Homo sapiens: one gene and its partner. The protein of the gene in region 1 interacts with the protein of each later gene in a pairwise test. Each region holds a gene or a part of one and is shown in the gene's direction. Other genes may lie near its edges.

Region 1 (3,811 bases):
CTGCACTCCAGTCTGGGCGAGAGAGTAAAACCCTGTCTCAAAAAAAAAAAGGTCCGCAGTCCAGCAGATCACAGTGCACTACAGTGTGGCAAACTGGGGGTGGGTAAAGGTTTCCCAAAGGAGGTGAGGCCTGTGCGACCAATGCAGGCACAAAGGAAAGGAAATGAATGCAAACTTGGACTGTGTGGGAAACTGCCAGAAATCCAGCATGTCAGGGGAACAGTGCAGAGGCCAAAGTGGTTAAGAGGCGAGGCGGGGACCATGCTGGAGGTGCAGGGAGCAACTGGATTATAGACAGCCTTGGAAGCTGTGGTTATGAGATTGGATTTTATCCTCAGGGCAACTGGGAGTCACTTTCAAGCAGGAGAGTGACAAGGCCAGGCACGGTGGCTCACGCCTGCTGTAATCCCAGCACCAGCCTTGTCAACACAGCATGACCTTGTCTCTACTAAAAACTTAAAAAGAAACAATTAGCTGGGTGTGGTGGCACATGTCTGTAGTTCCAGCTACTCAGGAGGCTGAAATGGGAGGATCACCTGGAGCTGGAAGTTAGGGGCTGCAGTGAGCCATGATCATGCCACGGGACTCCAGCCTGGACCATGGAGCAACACTCTGTCTCAAAAAAATAAATAAATAAATAAATAAATAAATAAATAAATAAATAAAATAAAAAAGCAGGAGAGTGATAAGATCATTTTGACTCTGGCTTCAAGATGGAGAATGGGTGTTGGGAGAGGATAGAGACGAGCTGGCAGTCCAGATGGCAAGCTTGGGAAGTAGCACTTGTGATGAGGGGGACAGGTAGAGAAGATGCTAAATTAGTACCTGCAGGCTGAGAGGATGTGACAGAGGAAGAGAGGGAGAGGAAGGGGATTGCTACTGCCTTCTTCCCCTCATCACCTTCATTTTGTCACCAACCCCTTTTCTCTGCCCCAGTGGCTTCCAGCTGGACAGTCCCTTCTAGGATCTCTGATGGGAGTTCACCCACAACCCTGCTCTTCCCCACCCTTTTGCCCCAGTCCTAAGAACTGCCCACTCTTTGTGCCCTGCAGACGGTGCCGGGCTGACCCCCCATCATGCCAGGCTGGCTCACCCTCCCCACACTCTGCCGCTTCCTTCTTTGGGCCTTCACCATCTTCCACAAAGCCCAAGGAGACCCAGGTAAGACCCCAGCCCAGGCCAGAATCTGGGGGAGGCTTGGGGAGACTGCAAGGGTGGGGAAAGGGGAAAGGGCAGTTGTTGCAGGTACCCAGGGACTGAAAGTCATTGCTGAGAAGGCAATGGAGGAGAGGGTTGGGGGGCTCTGGAGAAAGCATTTGGGGAGCAGGGTCTGATGGGCACTTGGGGCAGTGAGGATTGGGGGTTCCTGCCACTGTGGCCCCCTCTGCCCAGCATCCCACCCGGGCCCCCACTACCTCCTGCCCCCCATCCACGAGGTCATTCACTCTCATCGTGGGGCCACGGCCACGCTGCCCTGCGTCCTGGGCACCACGCCTCCCAGCTACAAGGTGCGCTGGAGCAAGGTGGAGCCTGGGGAGCTCCGGGAAACGCTGATCCTCATCACCAACGGACTGCACGCCCGGGGGTATGGGCCCCTGGGAGGGCGCGCCAGGATGCGGAGGGGGCATCGACTAGACGCCTCCCTGGTCATCGCGGGCGTGCGCCTGGAGGACGAGGGCCGGTACCGCTGCGAGCTCATCAACGGCATCGAGGACGAGAGCGTGGCGCTGACCTTGAGCTTGGAGGGTGAGGCCCTTCCGCTCCCGCCCCATTCCTGTGTAGCAGCGGGTCCGCCTCGCCTGGGTCTCCCAGGGCTCCTTCCCAGTATCTCCTCCGCACCCCTGGGGACCCCAGCTCCCTCTCCCAGGCCGCGCCGCCCTTCCTCCCCCTCCGCTCCCATCCGCTGGCCCTCCCCAGGATCCCCGCCACCCCCTAGGTGTGGTGTTTCCGTACCAACCCAGCCGGGGCCGGTACCAGTTCAATTACTACGAGGCGAAGCAGGCGTGCGAGGAGCAGGACGGACGCCTGGCCACCTACTCCCAGCTCTACCAGGGTGAGCGGCCGAACCCAGCACTTCCCAAGCCCCGCGGAGCTGTCTCAGGGGCCCGAGAGAGGGCGCCAGGCGAGCTCAGTCTGGCTCCTGCCTATGACGCCTCTTATCCCCGACCTCCGCCGTCTCCCGCCAGCTTGGACCGAGGGTCTGGACTGGTGTAACGCGGGCTGGCTGCTCGAGGGCTCCGTGCGCTACCCTGTGCTCACCGCACGCGCCCCGTGCGGCGGCCGAGGCCGGCCCGGGATCCGCAGCTACGGACCCCGCGACCGGATGCGCGACCGCTACGACGCCTTCTGCTTCACCTCCGCGCTGGCGGGTGAGGCGCGGGACGAAGGCAGGGTCTTGGGGAGGGGTCTGAAAAATGTGGGGGACGAGGAGTGGACCTCAGCTTGAGATCAGGGCAGGGTCTCCGGGTCCCTCCAAGGCACCGCCCCCCCATCAGCCCGCCCGCCCGCCCAGGCTCCAGCTCACCTCTCCAAACCCTCCCTGCACTTTTGCCTCGATCCCCCAACTCCTCTTACCCAAGCTCGATCCAGCACCTCTGCGGTCCCGCACCCCAACTCCGCCTCCTGGGTGTCAGCCGCCCCTCTCCGCCCACCCTGCCCTCGGTCGGTGACCCGCTGTGGTCCCCAGGCCAAGTGTTCTTCGTGCCCGGGCGGCTGACGCTGTCTGAAGCCCACGCGGCGTGCCGGCGACGCGGCGCCGTGGTGGCCAAGGTTGGGCACCTCTACGCCGCCTGGAAGTTTTCGGGGCTAGACCAGTGCGACGGCGGCTGGCTGGCTGACGGCAGTGTGCGCTTCCCAATCACCACGCCGAGGCCGCGCTGCGGGGGGCTCCCGGATCCCGGAGTGCGCAGTTTCGGCTTCCCCAGGCCCCAACAGGCAGCCTATGGGACCTACTGCTACGCCGAGAATTAGGCGCCCACCGTGTCCCCTCCAGCGCGCGCGAAGAAGCTTGGGAGTCGTGGCGGGGGTCTCTCGCCACCCCTTTCCGGAGAGCCTCCCCTCCCTCCAGACCCGGAGCGGCCTCTCCAGACCTGCCTTCCCAGCCGGGGGCTGCGGGCCTCGGACCCCGGCTGGCCCGGCGGCGGGGAGGGGAGGCGGGGGCGCCTCCGGCGGCGAGATGCAGAGGTGACCCTCGGACCCGCTGCCGTTCGCGAACCCTAGCAGAGGACTCAGCCACCGCCGGGGGGAGGGTGAGGCGGCCGGGGGCATTAACTGACCTCTGAGTACAGCAATAAAATAACCTGGGGATCTTTTGTGTTGGGTGGAGCTGTAAGAGCTGCGAGGCGTGGAGGGGTGTGTGTGTGTGTGTGTGCACGCTCATGTCGGGGCTGATGACCCGGGATCCTGCGTGCCCACTGAGCACCTAAGACAGGGTAAGGGGCAGGGCTGTTGCTGTTAAGGGATGGGTCAGCGGAAGAGCGGGAGTGCGGCCGGAGGGCACCAATAGGCCAAGGGAGAGAGAGAAGTGGAGACGTAGTGGGCGCCTGGCCCAGGACCCACGCAGAACCCAGCATGTTGTTGCGCCAGGCGCCACGCGGGGGCGCCGCACACTCACCTAAGATTAGTTCAAATCTGCCAGGGGCGCCCCATGCCACCAGGCCCACCCTATGTGCCCCAGATAACAAATATAAGACAACTTAAACATATTTCAAAATGTGCAGGCTGCAGACCTCCCTGAAGCGTTTGCGGGGACTACTGTTAAAGATAGGAAAGTCATATTGTTGCTAGAATTGACAGGAAATTAACCTTGCGT
Region 2 (3,500 bases), on another chromosome or scaffold:
AGATTTTAAACTCTTTGGGGGCAGAAATAACGCTGATCTTCCTCATCATTCATTTGGACATTTATTCATTCATTTGTGCTGCAAATACATAATACGTGCCTAATATGTATGCCAGGTATTAGACAATATTTATTTTCAGTGTCTAGCAAATCTGAAAGTCTTTTTTTAATTCTTCAAAGTGAAAATACAGGATACTACAAATCCATCATTATAGGATGACCTAGTGAGGAACGCTTCCTGGAGGAAGTGGTAGTTATGTTGCATATTGAAGGATGCAAAGGACTTGTAAGATGAGGTTGGGGGAGGATTCCACATTCCATGCAGATGGAAGAGTATGCGCAAAGGCCCTGAGGCAGAGAGTAATGAACATGGTACTGTGAGGAATGAGGCCAATGTGGCTGCAGCCTGCAGAGCAGAGGGTGAGGTGGGGTTGAGGCCAGAAAGGTGTTCAGGGCCTGATCATGCAGGCCTCGAAGGCCAGAGTAAAGCATTTCCCCCAAGTTTTTATTTTGGAAAATTTCAAACCTATAGAAAAGTTGCAGATGTAATAGAATTATTACCTAGATTTTCAAATGGTTGACTTTTGCCAGTTTCTCTCTTTTACTCTTTCTCCTTCTCATATGCACACACACATACATACACGTTTTTCTTGGTCGAATCATTTGAGAATAAGTTAGAAAAATCATGACATACTACCTCTGAATTCTAAAGCATGTATATTTCAAGAACCAAATTAATCTCTGGCATAATTATAGCACGATTACACACCCAAGAAAATTAATTATAAAATACCTGTACCTTATATACAGTCCATATTTAAATCTCTAATTGTCCTAATAATATCCTTTGCTAACATGTTTTGAAAATCCAGGCTCCGCTGACATTTTTTGGGACCAGTTAGGCCAGTTATTTTGCAATACATACCTCAATTTAAATTTGCCAGATTATTGTCTCATGGTTAAATTCTGGTTGAACATTAACTACTGCATAGGTGATGTGTGGCCCTGAGAACTAACTAATATCAGGAGTCCGTAATGTCAGTTTCATTACTAGTGATGTTAAATTTGATCACGTGGTTAATGTGGTGTCTACCAGATCTCTCCATTGTAAAGATAAAATTTTCGTTTTGTAAGAAATGAAGTAGCCTGGGGGAAGATACTTTAAGCATCTATGAATATCTTGTTCCCCAACAATCTTTTACCCAATGTTTGTACCTTTGGCATCCCTTGTGTAAGATAATTATGAATGTAGCGATTGCAAAATAGTGATTTTTCAAATTCTATAATTTTTTTCTACATTCGTTGATATTCTTCTGTAAAGAAGAGCCCTTACTTCTCCTCCATCCTTTTAAATCAGTATCAGTATAGACTTGTGGATGTTTAAAATTTAGATTTAAGATCTCACATGCATTTATAATCCATTTCTAACATTAAACATTTTGATGTTTAATTTTTGTATTTGGCCAGGAGGAGCCCTGATCAGAAAGGTTTTTTGAGAAAACTATTGATTGAATGAAATAATAATATAGAAATGACAAATAAATCTGTGTTTACCACTTTTTTCTCCTGAGAAGTTCTATTTGTCAATCTAATGTGAATATATTTTTATTTCTCTCTAGGTCTCATGGACTGATTGGCTCTCATTCAGCAGGAACCTAACAGATAAGTCTTCCTGCTGTATATCAAGACAATGCTTGGTTTTCAAGCTGTTCTGAGAATGATTAAAGCAGTGTCGCAAGGTGACATTGTCAGGGGAGAACAAGCAGCTTGAGAATTTCCTCTTAATCTGATTGCAGCTTGAAGGCAGCCCATTTCCATTAAGTAGGACTGCATGGCAAGCAGCCCCACCAAAGGGTTGACAATGAGCGTCCCAGTGGCTCCTAAGAAATCATGTTACACTCAGTTGCGGGACAACAGAAATGCAGCAAGAAATAATAATGAAAGCATCTTAAGTCTGGGAGATACGAATGCCAATCAAATCATGTTGGAGGTCAGCTCCTCTCATGACGAGTCCAAGACATGTGACCTGGGAGATGAAATTGGAAATACAAATTCAAGTGAGCCAGAAAACCGTACCCATTTCCATAAGGAATTTCACCAACTTCAGGGCTTTGGGAAAGGCTCTCAGGCTGGCTCTGCCAGCCTGAAAGATTTTAGACTTTCTTCAACCATTCAGAGGGAACTCAATGAAGAGCACACAGTGGAGAGAGGCACAGATAGCCTGCAGACCACGCGGAGTATTCAGGGACCAAGTCTGTCGAGTTGGAGGAATGTGATGAGTGAGGCCAGTCTAGACGTTTTGGCTAAAAGGGATGCTGAAATTCCCCGGCATGTTCCCAAGGATAAACTGGCAAAGACCCTTGACAATGAGGAACTGAGGAGGCATTCTTTGGAAAGAGCAAGCAGCTCTGTAGCTGCAGTCGGGAGCCTGACTCCGCAGCATCCACAGCCTCTATCCCTCGACTCCCGGGAAGCACGGGGTCAGATACCTGGGGGTGGGGAGGGGCCACAGAAGACATTGCCAGACCACGCTGTCCCGGCAGCTTTCCCTGCAACTGACAGTACCTCAGAGGGAAAGAGTGTGCGTCATCCTAAACCATCTACCTCAGAAAGCAAGCAGAGCACTCCCTCAGAGACCCAAACAGTGGGGGCACATGTACTGCAGGTGTGCAGTGAGCACACATCACATTCCGCCCATCCAGAGCCTGCTCTGAATTTGACTTTGGCATCGAAGGAAATCCCAAGTAAACTGGAAGCACAATTAGGTCAGGGAAAGGGAGAGGCCAAGCTGGATCTGAAATATGTTCCTCCCAGGAGAGTTGAACAGGAGGGAAAGGCAGCCCAGGAAGGGTATCTGGGATGCCACAAGGAAGAGAATCTGTCAGCCTTGGAGGGAAGGGATCCATGTGGGGAAGCACACCCGGAAGCCACCGATGCACTTGGCCATCTGCTGAACAGTGACCTCCACCACCTTGGGGTGGGAAGAGGCAACTGTGAAGAGAAGAGAGGAGTCAACCCAGGGGAGCAGGATTCTCTCCACACCACCCCCAAACAGGGCTCTGCTTCCTTAGGAGGGGCTGATAATCAGCCCACTGGCAAAATTTCACCATGTGCAGGTGAGAAGTTGGGTGAAAGGACATCCAGCAGCTTTTCACCAGGTGACAGTCATGTGGCTTTTATTCCTAATAATCTGACTGACAGCAAGCCCTTGGATGTCATTGAGGAGGAAAGGCGGTTGGGCAGTGGGAATAAGGACAGTGTTATGGTTTTGGTGTTCAATCCTTCTGTTGGAGAGAACAAGACGGAGGTGCCTGAGCCCCTGGACCCTCAAAGTGGCCGCTCAGAAGCACGGGAAAGCAAAGAGGTCACCACATCTGTTGCTGAAAACAGGAACCTTCTAGAGAATGCAGATAAGATTGAAAGCACCTCAGCAAGAGCAGATTCAGTTCTCAATATTCCAGCACCCCTCCACCCAGAGACAACTGTGAACATGACCTACCA

What was found. Proteins that work in one complex are often made in the same cells at the same time.
Region 2: the proteins of HAPLN2 (region 1) and MTUS2 interact in binary tests that used the Homo sapiens proteins (3 or more experiments, as listed by UniProt).

Annotation. Positions count from the first base shown.
Region 1 is NC_000001.11:156,622,415-156,626,225, forward strand, and holds the end of HAPLN2 (hyaluronan and proteoglycan link protein 2 precursor), read left to right. Parts: intron 1-1,052; coding exon of another isoform or gene 1,053-1,076; coding exon 1,077-1,161; intron 1,162-1,392; coding exon 1,393-1,746; coding exon of another isoform or gene 1,747-1,750; exon of another isoform or gene 1,751-1,883; intron 1,884-1,936; coding exon 1,937-2,053; intron 2,054-2,186; coding exon 2,187-2,369; intron 2,370-2,686; coding exon 2,687-2,970; 3' UTR 2,971-3,311; downstream 3,312-3,811. UniProt on the Homo sapiens protein: Mediates a firm binding of versican V2 to hyaluronic acid. May play a pivotal role in the formation of the hyaluronan-associated matrix in the central nervous system (CNS) which facilitates neuronal conduction and general structural stabilization.
Region 2 is NC_000013.11:29,022,839-29,026,338, forward strand, and holds part of MTUS2 (microtubule-associated tumor suppressor candidate 2), read left to right. Parts: intron 1-1,618; 5' UTR 1,619-1,830; coding exon of another isoform or gene 1,831-1,860; coding exon 1,861-3,500. UniProt on the Homo sapiens protein: Binds microtubules. Together with MAPRE1 may target the microtubule depolymerase KIF2C to the plus-end of microtubules. May regulate the dynamics of microtubules at their growing distal tip.